Regions from separate parts of the Homo sapiens genome. Here region 2 is linked to region 1. Evidence: fine-mapped expression QTL. A gene starts in region 1. The other region holds a variant in brackets. All regions are shown on one strand. Distances are between the middles of the regions.

Region 1 (11,973 bases):
CATGGGCTAGAATGGAAAGTGCTTCATTTATAAAGTCTTCTTGCATACGACTTAATGAAGCCGAGATACTGTTCAACAATTGTGAGGTAACATTTATTTGTATTTGCTTTACTATTTTACAAAGTGCTTTCCTATACAGCTTTTATTGAAATTTTGGGGCCACATATGAAAATTGGAGGTTCTGAAGAAGCTACTTGCCCTAAATCTCATGTTTACCAGGCGACAAGGTAGTACTTCGGACTCTAAATCCAGTGTCCTTTCTTTTAGCATGCTATCTGGTATATAGGAGTCTACAATGGCTATCACTTGGCTAAAAACAAGTAAAACCAGTGGGGAAGACCCCCTCCTACCAAGAAAAGGCCTAAACCCGGTAACAGATACTCCGAAAAGATCTTTCGAAACAAGCAGGCAGTTCAATTCTAAACAGTATAGATCTAAAAGAAAATACCTACTATAGCCTCCATATATTAAGTTGCCTTTCCCCACAAGTATCTTTATTATGGTTAATGGGCCAATTATTACATTACAACAATCCTATGAAGTGGGTACTATTAATATCCTCATTTTATAGACAAGGAATGAGAGGTGCTAGGATTCAAATCCAATCTCTATTAATTAAAGTCTACCTTAAGTCTAAGTCTGTAAGCTGCATATTTGGTAGGCCATGCTGTTGTATGTGCAGACCCAGTGTGGATGTAAAAACGTGACAAGTGCACATGGAGGCTTTACCCCTGCCTGGCAACAATTCTCCAGCGATACCTTCCCAAAATATGAATATAAAGGCATTAAACTTAAAACAGCTGTGCACCACAGACAGCGTTGTGGCTTCCATTTCAAACCTCACCTAACTCAAGCCTGCTAACTTGCCACCTGGATGACAATAGCTACATATAAGGTAGTTGACTGGCATGCCCAATTAGCCTACTAGTTACTTACACTAGCTAACCTGAATGATGCTTTTGGCTTAAACGTCAAACTACCTCCATGTCACCTACTTAGAGAGCAAGAGCTTTTATTAGGCATTCCACAAATTCCTTAGGCCTTCTCAAACTCATCGAGGCTATAGTGAAGAAATGAGATGGGTGAGTAGCCCATGCACAAACATGGCTCCTTTTTGGGTACAAAGCTCTGTACCACTGGTCAGTTACAATCCCAGCCCACTCTGACCTGCCACCTGCTCTCCCATCCCTGCCACTGCCACTGCTGCACAGCTCCCAGCCCTCCCCATGCACTCGGTGGCCTCAAGAGAAACTCATTTCACTATTATAGGCTTCACTTTCATTAAGGGCCAAAGCAAGTTCTGAGTTCAGAAAAAGGCTCACGTTCACCTCCCCAGATGAGCCGGCATTAACAGAGTTTTGAGCCTCAAAGCATTTCCTTCTTCCACCTCAGCAGCTGGGAAGCTCCATCATGTCTTCCTCAGGTGGAAAAATTTTCCTCAGCCTAGAATTCCCCAACCTATCATGATGACTGCTTTTTTTTTTTAGCTGGTTGTTCAGGTTTTTGTTGTTGTTGTTGTTGTTGTCTGTTTTTTAAGAGTATTTGTTTTCAGCTGCCAATTCTTCTGCAAAGTGAGTATACTTGAAAACTGCATGTCTGGTCAGCATGACAAAAGTCTTAAACCAGGGACAACACAGTTTTTTTCACAGATGAATTGCTTAAACAGGCAGGCTACTTACCTTGCTCTTGTTTGAAGAGAATACCGTACTAAAAAAGAACAGAAGCCACATTAAACCCATGGTCAGATTTCAGATGTCTCACATTGCCTCCAGAAAGCACTCCTCCCCGAGTAGACAGAGTCACCACAGTGTTAGTTACTTCCTCTGCTGTCAACCTGGCCATCCCGCAAGCTCCTTGATTCCCATTCATGCAAGATTTGTACAGTCATATCAGAAAAAAATTCTTAAAGAAACTGACATTCTCCCCTCCTTCCTACTACCCAAACTCACTCAACAAGAGACCAATAAATTATGTTTTCTTTTTCTGTTCTGATCACCAAGGAAGCTCAAAGTCCAGTTTGTAGCTTAAATTTTGCAGCTGCAATAAGAACACACAGCCTGCCTAACCGTCTATTAACTTTGTCCCTAATCTTATTACAAAGATATGTTTCTCCTGTTCTATCTCCTATTCTGATCTTTTTTTTTTTTTTTTTGTACAACATCTTTTAAGCTTCTTCTATTACTCACTAAATTGTGGTAAAGACTTGGATGAACCAATCCTCCTCTCAGTATTTGCATTTCACTAGTCCCACCTAACACTGTGGTGACTAGGTACCCAGGGTCACCCAGCTCTTTAGGAGCCAGGCAAGAATGAGATGCTAGTTTCTTGACTACACATCCAGAAAACCTACTGGACTTGAACTTGGCAAAGAGACCAATTGATGTTTTTCCCTTCAACACAGGTCTTACCTGGTTGGTCATTTCCTTAACCAAGGATCAAGGACAAAAGGCCAGACAGCTCTGTGGAAACAACACCAGGATTTCAGTGAGGGGGTGTCATCAGGATAGAAGGCACACAGGAAGTTCCCCTTGACCAAGAAAATAAGGCAACTCTTTATTATGAAGTTGTTCTGACACCCTTCTATGGATCAGTCCCTGGAACCTCCTTCGCACTCCCTACCAGGTGGTATGGTCTTCTTTCTTCCTCTGAACCTAGGGACTCAACTAACAGCTAATTCTATCCCATGGTTTCTTCACCTCAAGTGTGACTGCAGAGAGCGACCAGTCTCTGTCCTTTCCTGCTCTTTAGAGAGAAAAAAACCACAGCTCCTTTTAATATTAAATATTATTTATTAAAAACAAACAAACAAACATGGGGGAATCCAAAGATGGCAAAGTTCTTATTTTACATGCAAAAGTCTCAACCAAAAATGCCTTTAAGAGCCAACAGGCAGGTAAATAAGGGCAGAAGCTGGAGGGAGACACGTGTCAAGAGATTGAGAACATCCTGGCTGACATGGTGAAACCACGTCTCTAATAAAAATACAAAAATTAGCTGGGTGTAGTGGCGCACACCTGTAATCCCAGCTACTCAGGAGGCTGAGGCAGGAGAATCACTTGAACCTAGGCAGCGGAGGTTGCAGTGAGCTGAAATTGTGCCACTGAACTCCAGCCTGGGTGACAGAGCGAGACTCCATCTTAAAAAATAAAAATAAAAAATAAAAAAAAAAGGATAGATCTAATTTCTCAGGCTACATTAAGGGCTAATGGTTCTTATTTCTTTGTGTGTGCCAAAGACCCCCTTTGGCGGACTTTTTTTTTTCGAGATAGGGTCTTGCTCCATCACCCAGACTGGAGTGCAGTGGCACAATCATGGTCAATGCAGCTTCAACCTCCCAGGCCAAGTCTTGCTCCCACCTCAGCCCGAGTGGCTGGGACTACAGGTGCGTGCCAACATGTCTGGATATTTTAATTTTTTGTAGAGATGGGGTCTCCCTATGTTGCCTAGGCTGGTCTTGAACTCCTGGGCTCAAGCAATCCTCCTGTCTTGGCCTCCCAAAGTGCTGGGATTACAGGTATGAGCCACCAGACTCAGGCTCAGGATGTCTTTACAGAAAATACACAGGTTTAGAAATGAAACCAATTACAGTAGGTTCTCATTATTCACAACAATTATGTTCTATGAAGTCGCTACAGACACTAAATTATCCAACACAGAACCACTGTTCCTTGGGGAAACAGGTTCCTGAAAGCCTCTGGGCACATTCTTGTCAACCAATCAATACATAATCATGTTTTATGTGTGTTTATGTTTAAAGGCACTTACTGAATATACATTAGTAATTCATTAATACTGAACTCATGCCTAAACAAAGCTTATCTAACACACATATTTTCTCCATAAGACAAATCACAATCTTCTTGCATTTAGAAGCACCTCAGCACTATGCTTGGGGGCTATCTCAAACAGTGGAATCACCGACAAAAAGCACAAAGATGAGAAAAATGTAGCACCAAAGACTGCAAAAATGACATTTGCTTACAATATGAGAGTTGACAAGAAGGCAGTGTCACCTTGTTTGACTTCAGTTGAGAACATGTGCATCAGGCAACTAAAATTTTTCACGTGAAAAAATGTCATGTCTTCCAAAGACCACAAAAGCATTGTAAGTATTAATTTGAGGGCTACAGACAAATTTTAGTAAGTAGGTGAATTCATAAATACAGAATCCACAAATAATGAGGATAGACTGTATGCTAAAATTTTATCAAAATACAAAAACATATGTGCTTCTTTACTGACACATTATATATGTGATCTAGAAGCAAATTTAATAACTACCATAATTTCGAAGTTGCAATGAGCTTACACAATATCATGATATGAAAATATCTATAATTTATATTCATAACAAAGTCACACTGCTAATAATGTGATTTGTTGCCTACATTCACAGTGGAAGAAAATGCTAAATTTCAGTTGGAGGTTAGGAAACATAAAGATGCAATTTTTCCTCTCAGCCAAGTTCACGGCCCTCGCAATTCTACCCATTGGCAGTTTAAGGGACCACACAGTTAAGGCATCCAGGTTCAGGTTACTTTCTTTAAATCTGCCAGCCTAAAAAGCTGCCGAAGGTTTTCCAATAACAGGAAATCAAACAAACAAACAATTTATAACTAATCCTTGCCTATGAAGATCTCAAATTGGTAGTGTTTTGTTTTGGTTTTGTAAAGACAAGTTCTCATTATGTTGCCCAGGCTGGTATCAAACTCCTGGCCTCAAACGATCCTCTTGTCTTGGCCTTCCAAAGTGCTGGGATTACAGACAGGTTGGTAGTGTTTTATTCATTTGTGACCCATGAACAGGGTTCTTTCTGCCCAGGGTAGGAAAGACAGGAAAGTGCTCAAGCCAGTTTGGCTAATGGGAATGGTATTCAACCTCTGCTTCAGCACAGCCTTCTGCCTGCTGAAGCACAGGCTTGTCCTCTTCCCTGTCATTCTGGGCCTCACATTTGGCAATGGATAGAAACAAAAAAAGGAGGAAGGCTTGCGGTAAGCCAGCTTCCAAAAACCCGGGCTCCAAAAGACAAGGGTGTGATTCTATCAATGAGTGCACATTTGAGGATGTACAATGAATCCGGTCCTATTTTAAGTAATACACAAAGATTTAGCTCACTGAAACCTCATAACCCCGCTTACTAGGTACAGTAGTTCTTTAGCTGAGGTTTTGATTTCCACAGTTCCAGAGGTCAACCGTAGTCCAAAAATAGGTGAGTAGAGTGCAGTAAGATATTTTGAGAGAGACCACATTCACATACATTTTATTACACTGTTATAATTCTATTTTATTATTATTGTTGTTATTCTCTTATTGTGCCTAATTTACGAATTAAACTAAGTAATCACAGGTATGTATGTGTAATCTGTATGAGAAAAAACACAGTATAGATGCTCCTCAACTTACAATGGGGTTACTTCCCAATAAACCTATGTAAAGTTGAAAAATTGTAAGTCAAACCACGGTAAGTCAGTCAGGGTCCTTCACTATCCAAGATTTCAGACATCCACTGGAACGTACACCCCGCAGATAAGGGGGGAACTACTATTTTTTTATTATCAGTTCCACTTTTCTAGTAAGAAAAGGGAGGCTTAGAAGCGGTTAAGGAAGCTTCCCCAAGGGACACTAAAAGGTGGATACAAGCTATAGTATAGGCTACCAAGATACACTACCTCTTACTTCAGGGTCTTATGAAGGTCAGAGCTAAGAGACTTTAGACCTTAGCCCTCTCTTGCCATCTTCTCTCTTTGGGAAACTTTTCCCTAAATTTCCTAGGCAGAATTCATCACTGACTCAGTGTTTCCAAGGAACACTACAGATGCCTCTATGAAACTACTCAGGCAAGTCAACAGCCCACAGTATTGCACGGTACTTGGCGTAAAGCGAACCCAGCCTCTGTCTGTACCCGTCCAGTGATGTCTGTATCTGTCCAGCACGCTACCTAAGACAGCGTGGCCCACTACTGGAAAACTTCGGTTAATACAGCCCTCCCAGCTACGGATAAATGATCTCCTCCGCAGAGAAACCAGCCCTAATCTCGATACTGCCCAGAACATTCTCAGGACGCAAAAGGAGGCCACCCACGGGCCTCCCCCACTCCCCTCAGGCCCCGTACACCGAGGAACAGCCAGGGCAAATGGAGCCATGGAAGCCACCCTCAGGCCCCAGGGCCTGGAGCATCCCTGAACGGACCTGCTTACAGGCAGCCTCGGGCCCAACCTCGCTCACTCGCCCTCTGGCCTGGACTGTCAACGGCCCTAATGACCCCAATCCCCAACGGCCCTGCGCTCCAACTCACCACTGCACTGCCAGGCTGCACGTCGGAAGCCGGGCTCCGCGCGACTGCGACGCGCAAAGATGAGCTATCGAAGGGGCGGGGCATCGCGCCGGCCCCGCCCTCACGGCTCGGAGCACTCCGCAGCGCCCGTTGCCGTCGCTATGGCGGGCGCGGGGCAGACGCCGACGAGGGTGGGCGGAGAGAGGAGGGAGGAAGCCAGGTCCTGCTTCCAGAGGAGTGGTAGTTGGAAATTTGCTTCCGGAAGCGCAGACGTTTAGCTTCCGGCAACTGCAGGTTTAGAGGTTTGTGTTGCAATTTCATTTTGTACTTTTGAGATTGGACTAAAGCTAATAACTTCTGTTGCTGAAATAAATTCAGTGAAATCGAGCTTTGTCTTTCAAACTGCTAGTCATGACCCATTAACGTGACAGATATCAGTTTAATAGGTTGTCAACTGACTTTTTTTTTTTTTTTTTTTGAGGGCCAGGCAGAGTAGCTCACGTCTGTAATCCCAGGACTTTGGGAGCCGAGGTGAGAGGCTTGCTTGAGCTCTGGGTTTCCAGACCAGCCTGGGCAACATAGCGAGAGACCTCGTGTCTACTAAAAATAAAAACAATTAGCACATGCCTGTAGTTCCAGTTACTTGGGAGGCTGAGGCAGGAGGATCGCTTAAGCCCTGGAGGTTGAGGCTACATTGAGCCGTGATGACGCCACTGCACTCCAGCCTGGGGAACAGAACTAGACCCCGTCTCAAAAAAAAAAAAAGAGATGGGGCTGGGTGTGGTGGCTCATGCCTGTAATCCCAGCATTTTGGGAGTCGGAGTGGGTGGATCACTTGAGGTTAGGAGTTTTGAAATCAACCTGGCCAATATGGTGAAACCCCGTCTCAAGTAAAAAAAAAAAAAACAGAAACAAAAACAAAATTAGCCGGGTGTGGTGGCATGTGCCCGTAATCCCAGCTACTTGGGAGGCTGAGGCAGGAGAATCGCTTGAACCCTGGAGGCAGAAGTTGCAGTGAGCACAGATCACACCACTGCACTCCAGCCTGGGCAACAGAGTGAGACTGTCTCGAATAACAACAACAAAAAAAGATGGGAAGAGGCTCATGCCCCATTATGGAGGCCGCCCTGTGGCTCAGATGTGGTGGCTCACTCCTGTAATCCCAGCACTTTGGGAGGCCAAGGGGGGAGGATTGCTTCTGGCCGTGATTTCAAGACCAGTATGGGCAACATGGCGAGACCCAATCTCTACAAAAAATTTTAAAGTTACAGACGCAGTGGTGTGCACGTGTAGACCCAGCTGCTCAGGAGGCAGAAGTGAGGATCACTTGAGCCCAGGAGTTTGAGGCTGCAGTGAGCTATGATTGGGCCACTGCACTGTAGCCTGGGTGACAGAGTGAGACCCTGGCTCTAAAAAATATTTTTCGAAAAAACTAGTTTTGAAGTTCAAATATATATATAGAGAGAGAGACGGAGGACTATTAGACCACTTACAACTAGGTGAAGTTCATCTTTGGGGGCTTTTTTTTCTTTTGAGACTGAGTCTTGCTGTGTCACCCAGGCTGGAGTGCAGTGGCGCAATCTCGGCTCACTACAACTTCTGCCTCCTGGGTTCAAGTGATTCTCCTGCCTCAGCCTCCCCAGTAGCTGGGACTACAGGCACCCACCACCACACCCGGCTAATTTTTTTTTGTATTTTTTTTTTTAGTAGAGACGGGGTTTCACCATGTTGGCCAGGCTGGTCTCAAACTCCTGACCTCAGGTGCTCCACCCACCTCTGCCTCCCAAGTTGCTGGGATTACAGGCATGAGCCACTGCACCTGGCCATCTTTGGGGGCTTTTTGAGGAGGCTATGTGTGGTGAGAAATTGGCAAATACACCCACATCTCCCAGGACCTATTCTCTTGTCCTCAGTAATCTCACATTAACACAAAAGAGAAGACATCCTGCAGCTCTTCTGCTGCACACATGACTTCCCTGCATGCCAGCATCCTTAACCCTCAAGTTCACATGTTTCAGAGTGATATGACTAATTTTTCTCAGTCACATTGACTGGAGAGCTATTTCTCTCCTTCCCAGCTCTGTGACATCTCTGTCCATAGAAATTTCATCCAGCCCCAGTGGACCCTCTGCATGTCACTGGCTTAAAAAGTTTGGGTCAAAGTGAGCAGACTTCAAGACTGAATTGTCAAAATTCTTATGTGGCATCTCTTATAAGTCAAGATATCCTTGTAACCATTCTGGATCTATTGGACCAGGGTCAGGCATGTGCCCCTGAAGCTAAGGAAGAATGTACAAATTATATCATGAAGCCAGTGAGCTGATTTTCAAACTTAGATTGACTTAAGTGCTGACTGGTGTTCGGGCACATTCCACAGAGCTAAATACACAGAAACTGACCCTGCAATGGCTGGGATGTGGGTTCCTGAAGTGTGGAAAGGAATTAACATTAGTACTACAAAGCAATGGCTTTTAGCAGTTAAATGAGTGACCTGCTGCCTTCCTGTATAACCAGTTGCCTTAGTTTTGGCCAATCTGCTGCTTTGTTTTTGTTGGTGACATTTACGGGTTTTTGTGGGTTTTGGAAATAGATTATTATGTAACCTCTCCCACACCGAGATAATTGGGCCATCTTCACTCTAACTTTTAGCTTTTGAATATGAAGAAGTATTTTTGAAAGACTCCTACTTTAAGAAGGGTGAAATTTTGGCTGTCAAAAGTGCTCACAACTGTATGACTAAGTGAATTTTAATTTGTGTGATCTGGGGTTATGTAAGGTTTTTTTTCTTTTCTACACATTAACTTTAAATACCCCACCTTCAAATTATTCTAAAAGCACACTGATCACATTTATGCCTTTTAACTTAAAATTTAATTAAAATTTAAAATTAAAAAAGCATAAATGTGATCAGTGTGCTTTTAGAATAATTAAGCCAAATACTAAGGCTTTCCATTTCTGTTTACTTGCTCCCAAATCTGCTACTAATAATTTTCAATTGAAGCCAGTTGTTTTGGATAAAAATTCAATTAATCATCTCAAAAAAGAGAAATGGAATACATTAAGAAAGAAGTAGAATAGAAGATATAAGAGTGCATCATACATAGTAAAGTTACATCATGTTTTATAAAAACTGTTTCACCCATGCGGTTACTGGGTCACAAGTGAAAATCCATTTCTTGCTATGAGTCATGGCCAAACACTTTGAAAATCATTGTAATAAAGACTTTCTAAAGACTTTCCAGCTTTATAATTCTATAATTATGACAAGAACTCCAAACCATTCATTCAAAAAGGATGTATTAAGTACCTACTTTCACCACATTCCCCCAGAGGGCCAGACATATGGGATCATTGGCATGACCTTAGCATTGGGACTATAAAGCTAGAATAATTGGCCTTTTTTACACTGTGGACGTCTCAGGCATCTGATGAAACCAATGAATCCTGTCCCAGAACAATGGGGTTTTTTGGAAGAAAAAATTTTAATTGCTGTTGCAAAAAAACATCAGTATGGAGTAGAAATTGGTTTCTATGGCATTATTAGAGAATATGTTCTAGAAAGTGGAGGTAACTGGATGTAAGATTCTGGCAGCAGTTTAATAGATAACAGTCCCAGATGTTTAGGTTGAGGCCAACGCCTAATTAGGGTGAACGGTTTGTGCGTGTGTAATTTTGGACAATATCTGGAGAAAGGTTACACTGTGCACAAACCAAATTTAATTTTTTTCACAAGTGTTGTAAAGTTTCTTATAATAAAAGGTTTTTGCTACATGCACTTCATTTTCACATTAAGAGTGTTTAGAATACCTAGACACAAAAGAGAGCATTCATGCAAGATATGCTACTCCTTGATATAATAATGCATACAGTTCAAAATGTTTACCCTTTTTTTTTTTTTTTTTTTGAGACAGAGTCTCGCTCTGTCGCCCAGGCTGGAGTGCAGTGACGCGATCCCGGCACACTGCAAGCTCCGCCTCCTGGGTTCACGCCATTCTCCTGCCTCAGCCTCCTGAGTAGCTGGGACTGCAGGCCCCCGCGACCACGCCCGGCTAATTTTCTTTTGTGTTTTTTTTAGTAGAGACGGGGTTTCACTGTGTTAGCCAGGATGGTCTCGATCTCCTGACCTCGTGATCCACCTGCCTTGGCCTCCCGAAGTGCTGGGATTACAGGCGTGAGCCACCGCGCCCGGCCACTGTTTACACTATTGTTGCAGTAGCTGCTGCCATCACCGGGCTGCGGCAGGGAGGCACAGCTGGGGCTGCATGCTGGTGGATGCCTCCCCCTTCTGAGTTGGGGAGAGCTCCCCAGGTGCTGCTGCAGCCGCCCAAACAGCAGTTGCAGATCCAGGCCTCCTGCTTTACGGAGCAGGCAGGGTCGCCACCCTCCTGGGCGGGGCTACAACTGCCCAAACAGCGGCTGTGGATCCGAGCCTCCCGGTGCTCTTGGAGGGGGCTGGGAGCAGGCAAGATCTGCCCTCCTAGGTGCAGGACCCAGAGGGTCTCTGCAGCCTGCACCCTCGTGGACCCCAGAAAGGACCCCACCGCACCCCGTCGCTAGGGGGTGTCTGTTCCTGCTGCCTGGCCTCTCTCTGCTGCCGCCCCTGCTCTGATCATGGAGCAGGGCTTGGGGCCAAGCCCCAGGGGCCATGAATGACAGTAGGAGGCAGATCGATTCCTGGGCAGAAGGGGGTAGGTCTCCAGTAAGGCCCCACCTTCAGGTCAGGGAGGGACTGAAGACTGGGGACCAGGCTGCCAGTCCCACAGACCTGAGTGGGAGCTTGTGGTGCCTCCTCCAGGCTCACCCATGGCCGCCCATGGGCCAGTCAGCACACACTTCCTCCCTTCTGAGGTCCATAAAAGCCCTGGGCTCAGCCAAACTGCAGGAGAGGATGGAGAGACAGCGGGAAGAGTAGCTGTAGAAAGGAGCTACCCTCTCTGCCAGAGCTGCAGAGACCTGCAGAGCCTTTCAAAGGACCTGCGGAGAGGAGGCCCCCCTCCTCCTGTAGAGACTTCCAAATGACCTGAGGAGAGGATCCCCCAGAACAGCCTCCTTCTCCAGGAGCACCCCCCGCCAGGATCCCCTAGAGCAGTCCCCCTCTCCAGGGTTGGGTCTTCTCTCTGCTGAGAGCAGCCCCCCTCTACAGGGTGAGGTCTTCTTTTTGCTGAGAGCAGCTCCCCTCTCCAGGGTTGGGTCTTCTTTCTGCTGAGAGCAGCAGGTGGCAGGATAACCAGTGGGCAGAGGGGGAGCTACCCTCTCCAGGCCTCCTGTCTGCTGAGAGCTGAACACTCCATGGGATGACTTGCTCAGAGGAGCTACCCACTGCGGGTCTTCTCTGAGCTGCTTAACACTCAGTAAGTTCTTCGAGTACCTCATTATTCCTGGACACAGGACAAGAACTCAGGCAAAGGCGCTCCCAGGAAGAAAATCAATACCTCCCACACCCGTCCAAAGATCCCGTAACACTACCATTACATCTGAGGCTTTCTGCAACTACAAGGGGGTGGTGGAAAGCTTGGCCCTCAGTATCAACATCAAGAAAGCAGCTACCACCGTCTCTGCCTGTTCTCTTTTTGCATTTTTTTCTTTCATTTTTCTTAATCACCTCTGCTATTGCTGCTGCTTAGCAAAACTGGTAAAAACAAAATTGTAATCACTGATGCATCACCCAGATAATCCTCAAATTCCTGCCAGGGAATCCT
Region 2 (11,973 bases), 20 kb before region 1:
CCCTTGCTAAGGCAAGAATGTTGTACACCAGTTATCTGTAACTCTTGAAGATCTATATAATGGAGTCACGAAGAAATTGGCCCTCCAGAAAAATGTAATTTGTGAGAAATGTGAAGGTAAAAATTAATTTTTGACTGAACCGCACAGTTCTGATCCCTTAGATTCAGAAACAATGCTTGTTTTATAGTTCAGGGAAAATAAGTTATCTTTTTTCAAATGCAAGGGTCAAGCAGAGATTACAAACAGGTGGCCTGAGGGCCACACTTCTTTGCCTGAATGAATGTTTTCTTTGGGCTGCACCTCTATTTGACATGTTGACAATTATTTCTTTTTATGTTTTTGTATTTTTTATTTTTATTATACTCTAAGTTTTAGGGTGCATGTGCACAACGTGCAGGTTTGTTACATATGTATACAGACAATTATTTTTAAAAATTAAAAATCAGACACTTGACCTCATCTAGGGGTTGGCAGACTTTTTCTGTAAAGAGCCAGATTTTAGGCTTTCCAGGCCATGGAGTCTTTTGTAGCTAGTTCACTCTGCCGTCATAGTACATAAATGAATGGACATGCCTATGTTCCAGTAAAGCTTTATTTACAAAACCAAGCAGTCTGGCCATGGTTTCTTGACCCCTGACTTAAATGTATATATAATTATTGTAATTTTTAAAAAACCTGAGTTTTCAAGAAAAGCCATGTCTGGTGACCCCAGCCTCACATTGTCCCACAGAGAGAATTGGCTGAGCTGGGTAGCTGCCACTATTGACAGAGCTTGTGTTGTCTAGATCGCCACAGCCCCAGCCTCCTCATTCATCTGTGGGCCTATGCGAGTTCCACCTGGGGTGGAAGAAAACACATTTGATGAAGCTAAAGTAATAAATTTGGATTGGTGCAGCCAAAATCACAAACGTTTGAGGTCAGATGTTAACATCTGGATGTTGTCTGCTTGGCTGGACTCCTCCAGACTCTTCTGCATTGTTTTTTATTATTGTAAATAGAATTCTAAGCCCATTGTCCAATGTGAGGGTTCCCTACCCTTCTGCCATGGCGCCCAGCAGGGACACTGGTAAGGGAAGAGCATGGCCCTCATTCCTGCCTCCCCTGACCCTGCAGGTGTTGGTGGGAAGAAGGGATCGGTGGAGAAGTGCCCGCTGTGCAAGGGGCGGGGGATGCAGATCCACATCCAGCAGATCGGGCCGGGCATGGTACAGCAGATCCAGACCGTGTGCATCGAGTGCAAGGGCCAGGGTGAGCGCATCAACCCCAAGGACCGCTGCGAGAGCTGCAGCGGGGCCAAGGTGATCCGTGAGAAGAAGATTATCGAGGTACATGTTGAAAAAGGTGAGGCTGCGCAGAGCTGGTGCTCCACACGGGCTGGAAATGCTGTCTGGGTGCTAATCGTGAGATACACAGACTAGATGTCAGGGAAGTGAGCTGTATCACAACATGTATTGGGTGTGCCATGAATTCCTCTTGTTTCCCAGTCTTCTCTTCACCCTTCCTGGCCTTATTTCCATTCCATGTCACCTGCCAAAGTGTTCTTGCTGAGGTTTACTTCCTTGAGATCACAGACAGCCTCTTTATGAGGTTTTCTAACGCTCTGAAAGTCTTACCTGGCCTTGGTTTGGGTTAGTTGCCATCTCCTGACATTCTCAAGCCATTCCTCTAGAATCTTTCGGAGTGTCTTCCTGGTCGCTTCTGATGCTCATTGGCCATAAGGGCTTGTGTAAGTGTTTGTGGCTGCATGTTCCCTTTCTCCACATTTCCCCATGTGCTGCATCAGATTCCCCCAAATACAGCACCTTCTCCTGCTATTCATTTTGCCTGATGCCATCATTTTAAGGCCTTTTTCCATTTTAGCTGTCCTCCAAGTATTCCGATGATTCTGTGGCTTTCCAATCCAGTAAATATATCCTAGATCAGAGATGAGACCAAAAGTAAAAGAATCAACAGCCAAACCGACACAGGTGTTATTAAAGGACTTACTGTTTAAACATGCCTAAACCCTGTGCCTTGAGTGTGCAAGCTGACTTATTAGAAAAGGACAGGGCTGGCTGACCTGTCCCTATCAGTCCCAAGTCATGCACCCTGTGCCCCGGGAAGTGGGCGGTGACCCTATGCTGGTGGTGTGGCATCACAGGCCCTGGGCAGGGAGTGCTGTGTAAACCTGGGATGTAGAGCCGCATTCCCCCACTCCCTGTGCATGCTGGGCTTGGCCCCACATTATGCCAAGGGAAGCGGGACCTCTTCTGTCATTGGCCATCCTAGCCACCCCTCCCTGCCTTGTGCCTGCATGAGGTTGGGAGACTTGATGAATAAAGAATCCCTGAAGGACTCTGTTCCTTCTTCAAAAGCTTTAAGGAAGCATGGTTTGTATGAGAAATGGCTAATCAGAAAGGGATGATGTTTCATAGGTATGAAAGATGGGCAAAAGATACTATTTCATGGAGAAGGAGATCAGGAGCCTGAGCTGGAGCCTGGTGATGTCATAATTGTGCTTGATCAGAAGGATCATAGTGTCTTTCAGAGACGAGGCCATGACTTGATCATGAAAATGAAAATTCAGCTTTCTGAAGCTCTTTGTGGCTTCAAGAAGACGATAAAAACATTGGACAATCGAATTCTTGTTATTACATCCAAAGCAGGTAATGTTTCAAAGTGTGTTTCCATTGATGTTCTGTATGTTTGGCATAATAATTCTGGCAAGTTAGCCTGATTTTTTTATTGCTACATAATATTTTACATATTGATGGGGTGCATGTGATACTTTGTCCCTTGCATAAAATGGGTAATGATCAAGCCACGTGTTTAGGGCATCTGTCGCCTTGAGTATTTATTTCTTTGTGTTGGGAATAGTTCCCCTGATTTCACATTTAAGGTCAAATTCTGTTACACAAATTAGTATGATGTGATTTTCTCTAAATTTAAAACTGTCCCTAATAACTCTGGATAATTTATAAAGTTCTTGTATATTCTCCTAGAAAAAATATTCAGTTGGGGGGAAAGTCTCAAATAAGAATCTTGGGGCTCTGAATTTTAGATGAATTCTGGCAATTAAACTTAAGTTTTTAAAAATTTATTTTTGTATAAGAAAACAGCTTAATAGGTGGTGTTTTTCTATCAAGTGGTGATTTGTGCTGATTCATCCACATGTTCCTGTAGCCTCTGTTGTTCATTACATGAGTTACATTTTAAAATAGAATTTTCCTGTAAGAAAGACTTTGCCTATCAGTTTATCCTTGGAGGTTTCCACAGGAATTGCTGGTCTGCACACACCCATGGGAGCCAGAGGGAGATGCCTCTAGGCCGAAAGGGTTCCTGAGGCCTGAGCTCAGCCCCCAACCCCCCTGTAGACACCAGGGCACTCATCTCCCAGGAGGGTTGGTGTGTTCACTGTAGTTGAGGGTTTGTGTGGGCACCAGAGCACCTGCCTAGAAGGGGCTGAGAAGGGAGAGAGGCCAGGCCAGGGACCTTGACTTGAAGCTGCTTCTGAATAGCACTAAGGTCAGCTGTGCATAGCAAAGAATGTCTGGATGGGTGTGGTGGCGGCTACGCCACCGAAGCAGCCTGGGCCCCAGCACCAGCCATTTGCAGTGTTGCTGTAGTCCCCTCACTGGCCGTGGGGCTGGGATTACCTTTTTCTATGGCCATTTGAGGTTTGGTGCAAAAGGGGTAGGTTCAGGGCAGGCAGGGAGGTAACCACCAATAAGCCTGCCCCCAGGGCAGTGGCAGCTGGAGATAAGACTCAAGTCTGGTGGGGTGACTGAGGCCTGGACTTCTGTTCCCTCCGTGTCCCTCTCCCCCTTCCCCTCCTTGTCTGCTTTTCTCTTCCCAGCCTTGTGCTCTTTTTCTCTTTCCTCTCTTGGATTCTTTCAGGTTCCTCCTTTCCTGGGGATAGTAGGAAGCAGAATTATATATCCAAGCCTTGATCGGTTTGTGGAGTTTTAAAATAAACTTATTTGGAAACAATTTCAAGCTTACAAGAAGTTGTAAATATAAAAATAGTCCGAGGCCCATCCATATATGATTTGTCTGATGTTAACATTTTACCCCATTTGGTTTGTCATTTGATCTGTGTCTGTTTTTATTTATTTTTAAAATTTGTTCATTTATTTTTTGAGACAGGGGTCTTGCTCTGTCGCCCAGGCTGGAGTGCAGTGGCGTGATCTCAGCTCGCTGTAACCTCCACCTCAGCCTCCCGAGTAGCTGGGACAGCCACATGCCACCACGCCCATCTAATGTTTGTACTTTTTGTAGAGACGGGGTTTCGCCATGTTGCCCAGACTTGTGTGTGTTTTTATACATATACTTAATCCAGGATTGGGGGAAGCACTGCAGTATAATGCAAAATTTGCATGAAAATTTAAAATAAAACACCTTCCCTTAGGCTTCCATAGACCTCCCAAGGCACCCATTTCCTCCCTCAAGGAGGAGTTTGAGGATCACAGTTTACACGAAGCTCCAGACCACTGGTTGTGAGCTCAACACCCTGGCATTGTGTCCAAGATGCCCTTACGTGGTCACAGCCCAGATCCTAGCCCTCCTGAGCCGGGGCTGGGAAGCATCTGTGTGTAACTTCTTTGGGAAAGCCTGTCCTGTCCAGGGGTGGACTATTTGAGGTCCTGGGCCCCACCAAGAGCCAGCGTTCCTTGCTGTCTCAGCTGACCCCAGCCTAGGGAGCCGGGAGCCAAATGGAGTGAGGGTGGTGGAGAAAGAGCCCCAGAGGGAAGGAAGTGGCAAATCCCAAGAAATCCATTTCCTTCTTTATTATAAGGAAGGGTGGAGCATCCAGGAAACCTGCCGTTGGAGAGTTCTTTGGGGATTTGTTTGTCCTTTTTGTTTTGTTTTTGTTTTTACTTTGTTCTCTTTTGCACCCTCTCTTTTCTTCACCCCTCTTTTGTGTTGGCTTATTTCTTGTTTCTCCATTTTCTCTTCTCCCTCTTCTTCCTCTTTTCTGCTGTTGAAATGCCTTCTTCCCCAGAGCCTTTTAGCCTGTTATGAGCATTGCTGAGGATTGGATTAATTAAAAAAGTGATTTTGGAGCCACACAAGGGTGTGATGGCCCTGCCTGCAGGCAGGTATTTACCTGCCGGGAGAGCCTAACTCGTGGTCTTCTTCTCTTACCTGTAGTTTTCCATGCTTGGTCAGTTTCCCAGCTCCCAGCAAGCTAGAAGCAGAAGCATGGGGAGTAGGGCTTGAGAGCAGCAAGAAGCGACACCTGATAGGAATGGGGAGACAGAAAAACCAGTCATATGTAACTTAACGAAGGGGATATGTTCTGAGAGATGCATTGTTTGGCGATGTCGTTGTGGTGTGAACACCATAGAATGTACTCACACAGACCTAGATAGCATAGCCTGCTACACCCTAGGCTGTGTGGCATAGCCTGTTGCTCCTGGGCTAAAACCTGCACAGCAGGTTGCTGTACTGAATACTGTGGGCAGTTGTAGTACGATGCTGAGTATGTGAGTATCTGAACATAGGAAAGGTGC[A/G]GTAAAAGTTTGGTGTAATCTTTGCAACCATCTTCATAAATGTTGTTGACTGAAAGGTCACTATGCTGTGCATGACTGTATTTCTTTTTTTTTTGAGACGGAGTCTCGCTCTGTCGCCCAGGCTGGAGTGCAATGGCGTGATCTTGGCTCACTGTACACTCTGCTTCCCGGGTTCACGCCATTCTCCTGCCTCAGCCTCCCAAGTAGCTGGGATTACAGGCACACACCACCATTCCTGGCTAGTTTTTCTATTTTTTTTTTTTTTTTTTTTTTTTAGTAGAGACGGGGTTTCACTATGTTGATCAACCTGGTCTCGAACTCCTGACCTCGTGATCCGCCCGCCTCGGCCTCCCAAAGTGCTGGGATTACAGGCGTGAGCCACCGTGCCTGGCCATGACTGTATTTCAAAAAAAAAGAATAAACAGGAACACAAAAAGCCAGCAGCCTGGAGCAGTTTAGCTAAGGGGTTGCTGTCCTGCACAGTCAGTAGGCTCTGAAGGCCATGTCTGAACCACAGCCCTGCCTGCGAATGAATCTCAAGGATAGTCATTGGCTTACTTTATTTTTAAAACCTCCTCTTTAAAGATTTCCTCTTGAAGAGACAGCTCACTTTCTACATAGTCCCGTATGGAAGTGGACTGCTGAAGAAATTAGTGTTTCCATTCCCCTCCACCGTCTCCCCCATTTTTTCCGAACATTTCTTTCTGTCTTTGTCCATTTTCATCGCTGAGCTGAAGAGCATGCTTTATCAGAAACCCTTTTGTCCCTTTCCTTTTCCATGCTTAGAGGGAAGTTTCTGACTTGGGAGAACGCCTTAGAGTTCTTGGGGTCTGAACTCCTCTGATGCCTTCCAAAGTCACGTAGCTGTAAGACCCAGCGGGTGCCAGCCGGGAGGGTGACTCCAGCTCAGCAGCATGTATGGAAGTGCATTGTGACCATGAAGGAGTCTGCCAGTGGCCAAGCCACCTAGTGAGCTCCCTACCAAGGAACCTGGGTGTCACCTGCAGGTGGCCAAGAGCCAGTTTTTATGCCAGGCAGGGGACTGGTTGGACTCTATTGAGGCTTCTTCCTGTCTGTGGGGAGCACTCCTGTCCCCCTCGTGGTAGGGATACCTGTCACCCCACAAAGAGGCAGGGTGACAGGTGTTGGCCCCATTTTAGGCAGACTTGGGTGTCATGACTTCTAGTTCACTTGTTTTAAACCTACCTGTGATGGCAGCTGCACCATGCTGCCCTCTTGACACACTGCTGGAGCCCAGAGCACAGGCCAGAGTCTCAGCCTGAGCCCCTTCCCCAGGCAGTACCTGACAAGGATACCTGGGATTGGGGCCAGCTTTCCAGTCAGATGCCACGTTTCCTTTGCCCACTGCCACGGGGCACTAGGGCCTGCCGCAGGCTCTCCCATGAGGGAGAACGACCTCTGCAGGCCCCTCTGCCTTCCTCCTTCCTAATTGACCCTTTCTCTGGCAGGTGAGGTGATAAAGCACGGGGACCTGAGATGCGTGCGCGATGAAGGAATGCCCATCTACAAAGCACCCCTGGAAAAAGGGATTCTGATCATACAGTTTTTAGTAAGTTCACTATGTTTCATTGTCATGGACATATTATTAAATGCCTTAATTGGAAGGGGAAAAAACAGCCACCTTTCTTTCCCACCTCACCCTTTACAGGTAATCTTTCCTGAAAAACACTGGCTTTCTCTGGAAAAGCTTCCTCAGCTGGAAGCTTTACTCCCTCCTCGACAGAAAGTGAGGATTACAGATGACATGGATCAGGTGGAGCTGAAGGAGTTTTGTCCCAATGAGCAGAACTGGCGTCAGCACAGGGAGGCCTACGAGGAGGACGAAGACGGGCCCCAGGCTGGAGTGCAGTGCCAGACGGCATGACGTGGTGCGGGGCAGCGTGGCCCCACCGGACTAGCACATGATGAATGTAAAGTTGGCACAATGAAAATGACATCGCTTTAATGGCCTTGTGTTTGGGATGTCCTGTGTATGTGTTCAGCATTCTTAATTGCTGAGTGTCTTTTTGGCTTTTCTTTTGGTTGTAACTTAAGTTATAGCTTAATTTATATTTAAATGTTTTAAGTATAAATCACCTCTAGTCTGCATATGGAATCTGTTCATTTCTATTTTCAGGATATACTTTTGAGATGTCAGTGATTGCACCAATACTTTGTGCTTCTAGTGGCTTTGCCATAATTCAGTGTCACCAATAAGGCACAGCCCAGTTAGCAGCTTAGCCCCCCTAGCAAACCCCAAGGCACAAAGTGGGCATCCTGACTCATCTCTAGGTCTGTGGTTTCTCCCCTCTTCCCTTGGCAGAGTTATTGAGGGCATGATCTCAGGGCTGCTAAGATAACATTTCTGAGGATTCTAGATGATCCTCTTAAAGAATAAAAGCACATCCGTGGATCGGACATGGCTGCATGTGCCTGCTTAACAGGGCCAACTTAGTTCCTACTGTTCTGTGCCCTTCAGTGGATGGAACGTGAGTGTCTGATCATCTCTCTTGGAAGTTTTCTGAACCTTCCAAGCTCTGTGGTGAGGACAAACCAGTGTTTGAATCATATGCTGATAACTGTTTGCCTGTGACCCTCACACCTTGTTCTTCAGGGTTTTAATGATTTTCTGTTGACAACTTTTGCAATGCTTTCCCACCAAAGTGCTTACTTGTAAAGAAAACTAAATCCTTCTGTGTCCCCGGCAGCCTCAGTGCAGCAACAGAAGCCAAGGGAGAATGCTGCTGGTTTGGCCCATGGCACAGCCAGCTTCTCTGACCAGTAATCCGGGGTGACTTGAGGGTCTGCAAAGGCATAGAACTCCCCAGTGTTTTCCACCTCATTCTCCCAGATTGAGCTCCCTTCCAAAGGATCGTTCCTCTCATTGCACAGCCATATTACAAAGGGTTTCCTGCTCAAGTGATGTTTTGGTAAGAACTTCGCTGAGTTCCACTGTGGATTACAGTTTGTATGGACTACTACTGTAAATTATAGCTTGTTTGGAGGGATATTAGTCATTATTTTATTCATGACAGGTAGACTACAATTCGAACTTAGGGTTACCTCAGTCTTTAGCCATTACTGCTTATTTCTTTTCCCCAAGTCACAAAAAACTTGTAAGCTGCTGGGTTAAAGCAGAGGCCACCTGTCAGATCTACCCTACCCTTATTTGGTTACATGGCACCTGAGAGTTTCACTCAGACCAGGGATCTTCCTTAGGAGGGTCAAAGTGCAGATCAGACCATGCAGGTAAGGTGAACCAGCTGCACGGACCAGGTTCCCGCAAAACATTGCCAGCTAGTGAGGCATAATTTGCTCAAAGTATAGAAACAGCCCACCTGTGCCCACTTTGACCATTGGTGAGGATAGATATAAAATCACTTCTTCCAACGAAGCCTAGGTGAAAATCTATTTATAAATGGACCACAACTCTGGGGTGTCGTTTTTGTGCTGTGACTTCCTAATTATTGCTAAAGAACTACTGTTTAGTTGGTAATGGTGTAAAATTACATTCAGCTCCTTCTTGTCATATAAAAGGAATTTGGAGGGTGTCGCTTAAAATTTTATTCCACCTGTACATTTGTCACTTTAAAATTAAAATTGAGCTGGTATGAGAGATAAGTGGCTTTGCTTTTTCCTTTTTTTGAGAGCTCACATAAACAGTGTTAGGTGCCTGCCAGCTTGCCTCTCATTGGTTGACATAATGGAATGAAGTTTCCACCCTCATGGAGCTTTATTTTGGGGGTGGGGGTGAATGCAAACAAAAAGTGGTAACTGCTATGAAGAACAAGAGGAATGGGAATGAGTAGAAGGGAATGGGAAGAAGGCCTCTACCAGGAGCTGGCATCTGGGCAGAATCCTGGATGCAGCTGGGGAGCAGATGTCCGAAGGTCTGGAGGGAAAACATTCCAGGCAGAGGAATGGCAAGGATGATGTGGTTACAGGAGGGTGAGCAAGGCAAGCAGGAGGGAGAAGTGGGGGGCTATGATAAAGAGTGTGAGCTTTATTCTGAGGGCAGTGAGTGGTTTGAGGAAAAGCACATGACCTGACTCATAAGCATATGAAGTAATGATCAATAAAAAACACGCTTCCAAGTGTTCAGCTACTTACATCTTTCTCATTAACATGAGTCTCAAGGGGGCTGATGAAGAGGAAACTCTGAGGTACAGATACTCTGAAATAACTAAGGCAGGGCTACAGTTCTACAGCATGAGGCACAGGCTTCAGCCTAGGCATTGTTAAGGCAGCAAGAATAGCAGCCTGCCTTCCGATACCCACCTAGCGAGTTAGAGACCTCTCTGAAATTAATAAGGGGAAGGAGGGCTTGGCAGGGGACATCTTTAATACATCAAGTGGAAGGATGCCCAGATAGACAGGAGTACATAATGTTCCTATGCAGTCAAATATACTCTTTCCTTCAGGACTCCATTCTAAAATAGATTAGCTTCTTTATCACAGCTCCGGGGAGCTCGCTGCTGTATCTCACTGCATAAGTCAACTCCCTGGAAGAGTCAGCCTGTATTTCTAAGCTGGAAAGTTAAAGAAATACCTGGATCTCTTGATGGCTAAGGCAGAGATTTGCTCTTAATGCCAATCCCTCTCACTGTTTCACTGGTAATAGGGTAACTGAAAAAAGAAGCATGTTCAAGGACACCAGTGTTTGCATTAAGAAAGCTTTATGTTAAAGTATGAACAGCATTTCCAATAAAACATGAAAAGATTCATATTGTATCTACAAAATTTAAGTCTTTGCTACAATAAATGCTATATTTCTTTTAAACAAGCCTAAGAAGGTAAGGAATGTCATGATCAATCCGTACATTCTCTTTGCAGCATAAGCCTGGAGACTTTGATGTTTAAATTGGACAATCATAGATGTGAATTTCCTGGTCATCTCCAACAGACACAATTTTTGAACCATTTCCATTGTATTTTACTCCCCAGACCTGTAAATTTAAAAAAAGATAGTTCTACAAATGCCTTTATTCTTTATAATATTTATGAAATGAACATCCTTATTTTCTCGTTATTCTGAATCTACCAAAACTGAGATGAGGATGTTCTTGTACTTTCTAAATCAGTGAGAATGGAGGCTTTAACCGAGCACCTTCCATTATTGCTATTTAATTAGAATTCCTGCCCCTTCCCATACTCCAAAAAAAAAAAAAAAAATCATTTTTAAATACAGTACTAATCAAGACTATCTACAACCCTTTCAAAGAGTCAGAATCCTGAAGTGTAACCTAATGCCAGGAAGACGGAAGCCATAAGAGACCAACATTTATGCTTCCAGGAAGAAAGAGCCCCACAACTACCCCGAGGTCACTGCCTATAGGGAAAGTCACAAACTGCGCTCCTCAGCTGACCCCTTGTGTCCGCCCCCCACAGTCAGTAATTCTCACTCTGTTATTAGTGGCCTATGGAGCCTGCCTGTCCCCAGGAGCTAGACAACATGATATTGTGGACCATAGATTTTTATTTGCTATGTGTTAAATTAACTGATTCACACCTCCTTCCCAGACAGAATTGATGTGGTTGGAGTTTCTCTAATCATAAATAACTTCCTGATTATTAGGAGGTGATTCTGGGTGGTAAGCCTGTCACCCTACTCTGATTTTAGTGTTGGGATTGGGCTGCATGATGGCCTTTCACTCCAGCCTCTGACACAGCACCGCAATGATCCATACATACAAGGAAACACAGCTAGCCAGGACTTACTCCCTGAGTAAGATGCTTAAATCCAGAAGTGGAATATCAAGATAGAACCCCCTCAATTTTGTTGGGACAATTTAAGTTGAAAAATAAGCATGAACAATGTTAGTTAACTTTAAGTTCCATTTCAAAGAGGAGAAATCTATAGGACCATCTAAAAATATTTAAAATATATTAAAAGCCAATATTATATTGCCATGGACATTTTATTTTTTATGCTCAGTTCCCCAAGACCTTACAGTGTGGTTAGGACCAGCAGCCTTGGCCTCACCTGGAAGCCTGTTAGAAATGCAGAATCCCAGGCCCTCTGCCAGACCTAGTGAAGCAGCATCTGCATTTTCACCAGGTTCCCAGGGGATACGAGCACACATGAAAGACTCAGCAGTATTGCACTAGAACACCTTTGCTATTTCACATATTCACCTTGGCAAAGATAAAGTTGCTTGTGAGAACAGTTTCCTTTTAAAGACTGAAAAGTTATCAATAACACTAAAGCCAAAAAACTTGTATGAATTTCCAGCTTCTACTATATTAAAAAAAAAAAAATCACATCTCTTCTTTGGACAGTCCCAAAAATGACAAGCGATGATTGTGTTTAAGCAATGGAATCTCCTGAAGAGGAAGGTCCTTGGTGAGCCTGCCATGGCGCAGCAGCCCCCAGGAGAGGGCCCCAGACACCAGCTGCAGCAATTTCCAAAGACGGCATTTAAAGGCTGTGGGGCTAACACCATGTTTTCCAGCCTATGTGGGGATATGCCTCGTGAGTTGC

Direction of the effects. Positions count from the first base shown, and alleles are read on the strand shown. Sizes are in standard deviations (SD) of each study's normalised expression.
As copies of A replace G in region 2, the expression in sun-exposed skin of the gene that starts at base 6,343 in region 1 goes down (small effect, 0.14 SD a copy in GTEx).

The links. PIP is the estimated chance that this variant, and not a neighbour inherited with it, causes the effect.
Region 2: its variant is fine-mapped to the expression of SKIC8 in sun-exposed skin (GTEx, PIP above 0.99). The same link has a PIP of 0.9 or more in neutrophils.

What each region holds. Positions count from the first base shown.
Region 1 is chr15:78,293,267-78,305,239 of GRCh38, forward strand. SKIC8 (SKI8 subunit of superkiller complex) reads right to left here and starts at 6,343. Exons shown (of 11, transcript NM_025234.3): 1 at 6,296-6,343; 2 at 2,409-2,459; 3 at 1,680-1,707; 4 at 1-6. The coding sequence starts at 2,420. RefSeq lists enhancers at 5,541-6,508, 6,061-6,410, 6,509-7,475, 6,651-6,740.
Region 2 is chr15:78,273,084-78,285,056 of GRCh38, forward strand. It overlaps DNAJA4 (DnaJ heat shock protein family (Hsp40) member A4), which reads left to right. Exons shown (of 7, transcript NM_001130182.2): 3 at 12-116; 4 at 1,114-1,341; 5 at 2,415-2,645; 6 at 6,962-7,062; 7 at 7,162-9,108. The coding sequence ends at 7,377. It overlaps SKIC8 (SKI8 subunit of superkiller complex), which reads right to left. Exons shown (of 11, transcript NM_025234.3): 11 at 10,152-10,438. The coding sequence ends at 10,349. LOC105370910 (a long non-coding RNA gene) reads right to left here and starts at 5,717. Exons shown (of 2, transcript XR_932500.3): 1 at 5,125-5,717; 2 at 575-1,914. RefSeq lists an enhancer at 3,544-3,838. The variant A/G (reference allele first, on the strand shown) is at 5,493.